Regions from separate parts of the Homo sapiens genome. Here region 1 is linked to region 2. Evidence: fine-mapped expression QTL. Tissue or cell type: tibial artery. Region 2 holds a variant in brackets; the other region holds the start of a gene. All regions are shown on one strand. Distances are between the middles of the regions.

Region 1 (5,147 bases), 110 kb before region 2:
ATCGGATCTTGCCACCAGAATGGGGGCATAATGTTCCTAGGCAACCTGTTCTCTTCCCTTCTCCGTGCTCTGGGTTTCTGGGGTCCCTGCTAGGGCCTAAGCTCCTTGGGGCAGGGGCGGGTCTTCCTGCTGATGCCAGGTGATGGTGCCTGCCTTGACTGGACTCCTCTGTGACTCCGGGTCATTCCTCTAGCCTTGAGCACAGGCCAGGCTTCAGAGTGAACTCTGGTTGTCTCTCTCCCCCACTGTGCCCAGTCACCCTGCAGGAATTTAGCAAATGCTTTTCTCTTTCTGCCTACAAGGCTGCTTTAGCATTCTGAAGGAAAGGACGTGGTAATGCCTGATAAAAACCCTTTCTCAGTTAGGTCAGTGTGCAGGCTGTGCATCCCAAATCCTGAAGGTCAGGGAGAGCAGGAAGGGAGAGCAGGAAGGGTCACTCAGCCCTCTCACTACAGTGCTCAAATGCCACGTCATAATACTGGGATTATGAAAATCGGTTGTGGAGTGCAGACATAGGGATTTGTGACTCCAGCAACTATCAGAAATTCTGAGTCCTGTGACCCTCTCCTCCACAGTTCTGGCGGTGGGGGTAAGGGTTTTGGTGAGAGCTCCATGGACCTATGACACAAATTGCTCTTTCTAGAATTCGGACTCTCCTGGATCCTTCTGGGTGCAAGGACTCCCACTTGCAAAGCGGACCTCTCCCCCCGCCCCTACTCCTGCCCCCACCCCCAGCCTCAGCAGAGATTTCTGGGTGACTCAGGGTAAGCTGGAAAATTTGCTTTTGTTCAGCCTTTGTGGCTGAAAACCTGCTTTGCAAAAGTGCTGGCCCCTCATCTGATTTGGAGAGTTTTAGGATTGTGGAGGGGGAGAGGAGCCCCCAGCCCTCAGGGATGGAGTGGGAGGCCCTAGGGGGTGGGTTAGAGGTTTAGTAGAGGGTGATTGGATTGTGTGCTGATCTCCTGAGGCCCCTGCACGTTTCTACAAGGCTCCGTAAAGCCTTTCTCACACTTGCCTAGCTATAGTTTTTCTCTATATGTGGAAAAGTTTAGCCAGGAAAAGAGCAAGCCTATTTACTGAGGGCTCTGTCCTTTTTAGGTATCACTGCATCCTTTACCCTGCTTTCTTCCCCTGCAAGGTCTCAGAAACTTGTTTGGTTAATAGAGTGGTTTTCAGCTCTTAGACGAGTGAGATTTAACTTGGAATTCCCCTGTCATTCTTAGCCCCCAAACTGGAAGCCCTGAGGAGCTTGGAGCTCCTTTCCCAGCTCATTTGACACTTGGCCCCCACCCAAAAGGATTTTTGGGTATTTTCTTTGAATTTGGTCTGCAAGGCAAGGGGTAGGGACAAGCAAGTTAATTTAGGTGTCTGTGAAGGAAGGCAGTGGGGTCAGCTCAGTTCCAGTGGATTTCTGAATTCCCCTAATTTCAGCCTGACAGTGTAGCCCCTAGACGGGGATGGGGGGTGCTGGGTAGGGGTGTGCACTGCTTTCGCAGACACTGTGAAGGCCTTTGCGCCGGTGGGGGCCAGCTGGTGGAGGGCACTTGCCCAGACTGAGAATAAAGTGCGTCCTGTTTCTGGGGGAGGGGAAGAGGGGCCAATGGTCTGTGGCAAATATTTGGTAGCCGCTTTGCCAAGGGCTCCCTTCCTGGCCAAGAGCATATTGATGAGGAGGCAGCGGTGCTGGCCTCAAGTGGTTAATTGGGAAGGCGGAGGAGCAAGAAACTAAGTGTTCTCTCACTCTGCCCCAGTTTTTCCAACATTCCCCACATCCCCACCAAGCAGGGCTCCAGCCATGTGGCACATTAACCCCAGCAGAGCACTTTCTGCAGTACTGCTCCGTATTGGGGACCCACAAGGAGTACAGTCGGTGAGGGAAGCTCGTGGAGCGTTCTCAAAATAAAATCTCTAGGAGCCAAAAACTTGCGGTCCACTTGTCTCTGACTGGAACAAGGCTCTGAAGGAGACTCAGGATTTAAGATAGTGTTTGCATTAGTCCTCTATCCAGTGACAGGAAGGCAGCACGCCTCACAGTTTGGGTGTGAGTGTGTTTTAAGTGATTTCAGTCTAGGTTTTCTGAGTTGGCACAAGGGAACCCTTTAACCCTTGATGGCCCTAGCAGAGTGGGTGGCCCATGGTACAAATAGGGAGACTGCTCATTTGAATCCTAGCAAGGGTGAACTTGGAGGCGCTGTTCCGGAGCGGGACAGTGACCCCCCTTCCCGACTGTCTTCCAGAGTGTCTCGCCAGCGTCCTAAGGACTCTCTGGGCAATTACAAAGGCTTTTCCAGGGCCTTGACAAAGTCGGAGAGAAATGTTTGTTAGCCCGACCCAGGCCCAGGCTGTGCCCTGGCATTGGGTTGACAGCAGTGCGCACCCCCTCAAGGTGAGGAGCGAGAACTCACATAACCATCTTCTCCTCGCAGTGCGGGTACTTTGGCTTCATTTCCAGCTTCTTCACGTCGCTGTAGCGGATCTTGGGTCCCTTCCGGGAGCACTTGCATTTGGACCCTGCGAGCGAGCGCGGGGCAACGGCTTAGTTGCTAGGCGGTCTCCTGCCCCTCGACCACCTTGGTGCCCACCCAGACCACCCCCCGCGGGATCCCAGGATGCCTAGAAATTGGCGCTTGGGTTCCCCAGGACAGGACAAGACGAGACGGCGACAAGGGGAGCTCCCCGCACTCACCGTCCACACGCGCGGTGTACAGCGCCAGCAGCAGCAGGAGCAGCGCGGCCGCCAGGAGCCTCATGCTGACCGGAGGGGCGCGGCGTGGGAGCAGGGACATGGGGAGGGCGCTGGCCCGTCGGAGCGGCGGCCCGGAGACGCCACCCAGCTCTGCTCGGCTTTCTCTGCCCGGGGCGCGCCTTCCGGCTCTGCTGGCTCCGGCTGCGCCGTCGGTGGATGCCCAGGGCTGTCTGTGGCCGTGCGCTGCGCTCTGCGCTTGTCTCCGCGCTCTCTCCACAGCCTCCCTCCGCCCGCCCTGGCCTCTTTTAAATCCGCTCCTGCCCTCGCAGCGAGCGAGCTCATTAATATGCAGAACCACTCGGTGACTCACTGAGATTTCTCAATGTGGTGAGGGGAGGAGACCTTCCCAGCCCGCCCGTCGCCCGCCCCGGGAAAGGACCCGCTATCGCAGCGGCGCACACCCGGAGCCACGCGCGCACACGCACACACACATCCGCTACCCTCTCGCTCACACAACACGCCGCCTTCGCACACTTGCACACCCATACCACAGCGCGCACACATTTCCAGCGTCCCGCTCTGCCTTTGGGGAGCCCAGACGGTGGAGAGGCTGCTGAAGGGCACTGCTTTTCTGAATCGTGTGGTTCTCTCTCTGGCCCGGCAGGCCAGCTTTTCCGAGCCGGCGGGAGACCCAGGCCCAGGGCTCAGATCCTCAAAGACCTGAAAGGGTTTTGGAGCAGGTGCCAAGTGTGAGTGCCTGCAGGCCTGACCCCCAAGGGCCCCTGCTGGGCCAGAACACAAGGCCAGTTCTGGACAGGGGCTTGTCATAGACTGTCCAGCAGCAAAGTCATTGACTGTGATCACTGGAACTGACTCAAAGAGGGTATGTGTGTGTATGCGGGGGTGGGGACGGGTATTGGGGAGGAGTTTTGGTGACTCCCAAAGGAAAGCTCCTTAAAGTGGGTCAGTGGCCTGGTGGCTGTGTGAGTGTCTGGGTGGTGGGGAGAACCAGGAGGAGTCCTCACTCTCACACTACTCTCCAAAGCCAGGTAGAGAGCCCTAGTGGAGAGCGATGACAGTGGTAACCATCTGGATGAAGGCCTTCCCATGTTCTAGACATTGTGCCAGAATGCGAGGTATAGTGGTGTGAGCCCAGCCATAGTGGCAGAAATTCCCTCCTCACTACTTTCCAGCACAAGTGACTTTACCGCTCTCAGCTTTTGTTTCATCATCTGTAAAGTGCAGATCATCACAGTGTTTCTGATAGGGTGGCTGTGAGAACTATAGAAATCATACATGTTGTCAGTACCCAGGAAATGTTACTTATTGGCACCATCGTTTTATGTCTAATTTATCTATTACTTTGATTCTTACCAATTGGTACTTTTCTTCCAAGTTGGTACTTTTAATTTCTTTATTTGACAGGTGTGGAAACATGCTCTGAGAGAAGAAATAACTTGTCCAAGGTCACAGAGCTAGGAAGCAGGTGACTAGGCCAGGAGGGTCCTCAGTATATACGGCTGCAGAACTGGGACTCCTGTCCCTGGACCACTCTGTTGCTTTGAGGCCTGTCTGCCCTTCACTTCTTGCTGCCTTGAGAGACCCAGAGACAGGAGGTGGATCATCTCAAGCTCTTGGAGTCCCTGGGCTTGGCTGTCAGGAGAGAGCTCACCCAGCTCTATGCCATCAGCCTGGCAGTTCCCTGGAGGCAAAAATGCCCAGAGGGCTTCTGGATGATGGGGACAGTCTGCTGAAGGGTGCAATGGGAAGAATCTGTGTCGTCTCTTCCCAACTGGAGAGCCCTTGCTGCTTCAAGAAGAAGCTGAGCCATGAAAAGCAAGCAGCGCCTATGCGTGCTGTTGTGCCTATACCTAAAGCAAAGCCAATAGCTGGACATTTGCATTTATGCATGAGATGAGTATGAGGGAGTGACTTTTGGCATTTATGTTAGTTTTTAACTCTAAAAATAATTTTTTAAAATATAGAAACAACACGTTTGCCCAGAAAAATCAGAAAACCCAAGCAGAAGAAAACTAACATTTTCACGCAAGTAAAATCTTGGGTGAAATCTTCCCAAAGCATCCTCTTTTTGCTTTGTGTGCACATGTACACATGGGATCAGGCTGCATGTAGTCTTTAATAACCTGCTTGCTATACCTATTAGCATATTGTGAACATCGCTCCATGTGGCTAGCCTTGCTACAACAATAGCTCCCTTAATGGTTTCATCTGAGGCCGGGTAGTATAATGGCTAAGAGGCTGGTGTCTGGAGTCAAATTGCCTGAGTATGCATCCTAGGGACTAGCTGTGTGACTTTGGGCAAATACCTTAACTCTATTTGGTATTGGTTTCCTCATCTGTGAGATGGAGATGATAATAATATGTACAGCATAGGCAGAATTAAATGAGATAGTGCATGTAATGCTTTTAATGTGGTCCCCAACACAGAGTAAGTGTTTGA
Region 2 (5,147 bases):
AATGGATTAAATTTAATTAAACAGTTATTTCTGTGGGTTGTAGAGAGGATTAAATTATGTCCAAACTGCTAGGCGTGGCTCACAAGGCCCTCAGAAGTGAGCTCCTCTTTGTCCCTCAGCTCTCTGACCCCTACCTTGTTGTTTGCACTCCAGCCACACTAAGTCTCTTCCAGTTCCTTGGATAACTGTACTTGGGCTAATGCCCATTTATCTCGCATGTCTCAGGGTAGTCTCCTCAGTGAAGCCTTCTCTGACTCCGCTGCTCCCCGTATGGTGGAGCCTTCCATGCTACACCCTGGCACACTATAGTACTTCATGCTTCTCATTTGCTGTGAACCTGTCTCCGCAGACCGAACATGCCATGAGGGCAGGGGCACTGCGTCTCTCCCCTGGGCTCAGTCCAGAACCTCATATTTAGCAGGCACCAGTGAAGTTTTACTGGACGACAGATGGATGGTTGGATGGACAGCTAGATAGAAGAATGAATGAATGGAAAAAGGGAAGGAAGGATGGGAAGGGATGGATAGATAGAGGGAATGAAAGGATAGACAGATATAAGTATGGAAGTATGGGTGGATGGAAGGATGAATAGATGAACTGATGGATAGACAAGGTGTTTAGGTTATCATCTGACATTCTGGGAAGAGCTTCATTTATTTCTGAAGGCTATGACTTGCTAACTTCAAAGAAAGGGAAAGGGTTGTTTTTTTTTTTTCCACAGAGAAGCAGAATCCTGATATGAACAACCTAATGCCCTCTCAGCACAACCCAGACCATGACAATTTTTAAAACAATCCATTAAGTGGCTTATTGGCTTGACTCATCCAGGATTTTCATGCCCAAAGATCATGAAGTTGTGCGCTCTTCTGTGTCTTGATGTCTTCACTCTGAGTGGGAACCAGGGAGACTGAAAGAATTCTGACATTAAGGAATCTTATTTACTCTGACATTAAAGAATCTTATTTACTCTTCAAAAAGGTTACCTACAGATTGGGTGAGAAGGTGAGCACTTTACCACCTATATATTTGGAAAATCATTAGGTAATTTTTGGAAAAGTCAGTCATAATGTATCAGAAGCTTAATCCTCTATGATTTTACAATGGCACTTAGAATTACAGTATTTATACATGCAAAATGCTCCATTTATCTGCCAAGAAACATGGTGATCCAGACAAATCAGATTTCTGTGTAACTGAGATTTCTGTGTAACTGAGGCTTGATATTTAAATATTCATTTTATTTTTCTAACACTATTGTTATGACTCAAAGCATTTTTGAAATCTTTTATAATTTCCTTTATGTCAATTCAGGTCAAGTCTTTTTTTTAATGTTGCTGTTTTAATAAAGATATCTTCCCTTTCCTCCTTAGTAAATAGCACCTTAGACACAAGTCACAATTTCATAAAGACTTAGAGTTATCTTTGTAAACAGACATTGTTTTCCTGGATTCTTGTATTTGGTAATGTTCTCAGGGCTCTTGCAGAGTGAAATGGATGCTGACTGTTCTGTTTTTACTAACAATTCTTCTCCTCTCCATGTTTATTGCATGGCTTTACTTTTGTCTGTTTTTGTCCTGAGTGTGGCTTATTGCATATGGGCTTTCTGATAACTACTTACTTTTCTGGGGTCTTTTTTCCCAATTATTTTTAAATTGTGGTAAAATGCACATAATATAAAACCATATTAACCATTTTAAGTGTACAGCTCAGTGGTATTAAATACTTGACACTCATTAATGTTGTACAGCCATCTCCCCCATCCATCTTCAGAACTCATTCATCTTGTAATTCACCCCTTCCCCAGCCCCAGCAACCGCCAAGTCTAGTTTCTGTCTGTGTGATTTTCACTACTCTAAGTACCTCACACAAGTGCAATCATACCGTATTTGTCTTTTTGTGAATGGCTTATTTCACTTGGTATTATGCCCATAAGATTCATCCAAGTCATAGCCTGTCAGGAGTTCTTCCCTTTTTAAGGCTGAATAATATTCCGTCATATGTCTATATCACATTTTGCTTATCCATTCATCCACCAATGGATATTTGGATTGCTTCCATGTTTCTCTCAGGCTTTTTTTTTTAACAGCCTCTGTGGATACAGTTGAATAGTTGACTTTATTGGTGTTCTGATCTCTAGATAATCCAGATATTCCTGTAAGAGATTTTGACTTAGGATCCAAAGTGCTCCTTGTGTTTCACTGCATGAATGTCTATGAAGAAGTTCAGCAACACTGAAGAAGTCATAGAATGATTTATTGCAGCTTAAACACACACACACACCATGGAAAGAAATTGCAAAATAACTTATTCCATGAGGGAACATTGCTATCCAGGGAATATTGAT[T/A]TGAGCATTCACATTCCCTGTAAACATGCTGAAAAAACAAAGGCTAAAACGCCAACACTCTGTGAAAAGCCAACATTCATCCCATGCAATGGGATTCAGTGGAAAAGCAGGCCCTGAAGGCTGGGTTGGGCATGAGTTCATCGAGATGCAATTCTAGCTGCCACTGGTGCAGAGGAGAGTGGTAAATTGTACAATGGAGAGATGCTTTCACCAGCAGCTGCCCCCACTCCAGCCTGGCTGAACCCTCACTGGGAGTCAATGTCAATGGGAGCCAATGGGACCATGTCCAACCATATAATCAAATAATAATAATAATAGCTATCATTCTTTGAATGCTTACTGTGTTTCAACTCTTCACATATGTTTCTGAGTGCATCCTCACAACAGTCTTATAAGACAATATTATTATTTCTGCCTTACAGATGAGGTAACTAAGACTTAGATAGATTAATTAATAAGATCAAGGCTACATAGCTAGTAAGTTTGTCTAGCTTCCGAGTCTGTGAGCCTAACCACTATGCTTTGCTGCTTCTGATCATTGGTTTGCATGAAATCAATGAGATAAGCCAAATACTCTCCTGATGGCCTTTGGCAGCAAGGAACTGGGTGCCTCAGACCCTCTTGGACCTATCAGTCCCTTCTGTTTCATAGGGAGGCCTCATCCAAGTCTTAAGAGGGAATCTACAGGCACAGGCACTCTCTTAACTGTAATCCCTGAGAACTGGAGCACCTGTTGTGATTCTCCATACAATAGACCCTCCTTCTACAGCCCATGGTTTTGGGGAAGGAATCAGATAATTGGTCAATTGAGGTTTGTGTTCAATATGGATCATCCCAAGTGAGGCAGCACCGGCACCTGGTGACAGCATACATACATTGTTGAATAAGTGTCTAAAGTAAAAGAAAGGGCCTTGAGAGCTGAAGAGCTGGATGTGCAAGTTCAAATGCTATATCACAGAGTCCTACAGTAATAGAGGTGCCTTTTCAAAGATCTATTTTGTGCATTCATGCATTTGGATCTACACAGATTGAGGATTGCAGGTGGTTCTTGCTTAGAAACCTGAAGGTCCTAAAACTCCATTGTGCCGACTCATTTCCTTGTTGGTAAAAGAGGAGAGATGAGCTTGAAAGTGCCTGTCTCTGTAACGCTGAATTGTGCAAGACATTTCCCGAAAATAGCTTACAAGAGCAACCCAGCTATGCTGTTAGAGGAAAAGTGATCTTCCCATCATGGAAATGAAGATACGATTTTATTCAAATTGGCAAATATGAACCCACTCCCATTCTATTCCAGGTTATTTTATACAAAAATGCTTTAAGACATAGTTGCTGTCCTTGAGGAGTTTGTGTCTGCCTGGGGACTTGGGGACGAGGACTGGGTAAGGAGAGGAGCAAGGGGCGCTGAGGAAAGAGCACTTATTTGGGTCAGCCAGACATGTACATTCGAACTAGGGTGACCCACTGCCTCGGTTTGCTTGGGGCTGGGGGGTTTCCTAGGATGCAAGACTTTCAGTGCTAAAACCAGGATGGTTCCAGACAAACCAAGACAAGTTGGTCACCCCAAAAATTAGTAAACCTCCCTATGCCTCCGTCTTCTTATCTGCAAAATGGAGATAACAACAAATTCTTCAAGTTCATGTATGGGAGAAGTGAATGTGGGAAGACTCATAATGCATGTGGCATTGGGAGCATGGGTGTAGGAATCCTTTAATATATTATGGAGGGATGAAAATCACATAGAGCAGTGGAATGTTCAGGAAAGAACAAAGCCAGCATAAGCCAAAGAGAACTGGGGAAGGCTGCATGAAGGTAAGCGTGCTCCAGAGGGGCCTTGAAGAACTAACAAGGCTGGGTCTGAGATTGTATGAGGAGATTTGATTATCTTGGAGTAAAACATGAGTGATTCTAGAAATAACTTCTTCCCTGCTACAAGCCACTTGTGTTTTGCAGGGTTTAGCTACTGCTCTGCTATGATTTGCAGCCCCCACCTGTCCCTGCTTTTCCTTGGGATTCTCTTATGCTGTGCCATCAGCTGAGCCCTCCCTTCCCAAAACACCTGCTCATTAACAGGCCACCCGCCCCTCCCCATGAGAGGTGTCTGGTGAGCCAGGATTAGGGAAACTTAAGCTCAGAGAGGTTGAGTGACTTGCCAAGAATCACCCAGCAGATCAATTTTGAATCCAGAAACAGGAACCAGATGTCCACACCTTACTCTGTGCTGGCTTTGGAAGGCGGAGTGTGGGGCCCAAGAGGCCCCAACAGAAAGGGTGAGCTCCTCTGGGAGAGACCAAGAATTCCAAAGCTGTCCTGTAATTCATGGTCAGAATTTCTCCCAAAGTGTGTCTTCAGGGAAGGCATTTTTTTTTTTTAATAAAAATCAGCTTTGAGGATCCCCAACTGAGTTTGGAAGTTTTACATATGAATTTCTGACTTGTCGTTTAAGAAAAGATGCCACGAGTGAAATCAATGAATTAAGGATTTGGCATAAGCTGTATCAAGTATCAAGTAATGAGCTTTCCGTTTCCCGTCACACATTCAGCGCTTCTCGATTCAGCCCAAATTGGCAAGAATCAAGCTGGTTATTAAAGCAAAACCTGGAAAAGGCAATTAAGCACTCCCAGGGTTAAAAGGTTGGATCCAGTGGAAACAAGAGTCATAAATTTTACTCACAGATAGACCTGCTATTCAGAGGCTGTGGCTTTCAAACACAGACACATATGAGGAGGAGGGCTTCTTGCTCAGAGCTGGGTGATAAAAAGCACGGGTTGTATGGGAGTCCTTCCTGGGAACCCAGTCCCGTGCT

Alleles and levels. Alleles are on the strand shown, and positions count from the first base shown. SD is a standard deviation of normalised expression in the study named.
For the expression in tibial artery of the gene that starts at base 2,963 in region 1, allele T in region 2 goes with a lower level than allele A (small effect, 0.33 SD a copy in GTEx).

Evidence for each region. PIP is the estimated chance that this variant, and not a neighbour inherited with it, causes the effect.
Region 1: CXCL14 starts here. The variant in region 2 is the best candidate, but not a certain one, in a credible set for the expression of CXCL14 in tibial artery (GTEx, PIP 0.65).

Annotation. Positions count from the first base shown.
Region 1 is chr5:135,576,029-135,581,175 of GRCh38, forward strand. It overlaps CXCL14 (C-X-C motif chemokine ligand 14), which reads right to left and starts at 2,963. Exons shown (of 4, transcript NM_004887.5): 1 at 2,687-2,963; 2 at 2,406-2,511. The coding sequence starts at 2,750. It also overlaps a transcript of SLC25A48 not described here.
Region 2 is chr5:135,686,244-135,691,390 of GRCh38, forward strand. It overlaps a transcript of SLC25A48 not described here. Among named protein-coding and RNA genes, the nearest start is that of SLC25A48-AS1, 35 kb to the left of the region's middle. The variant T/A (reference allele first, on the strand shown) is at 2,345.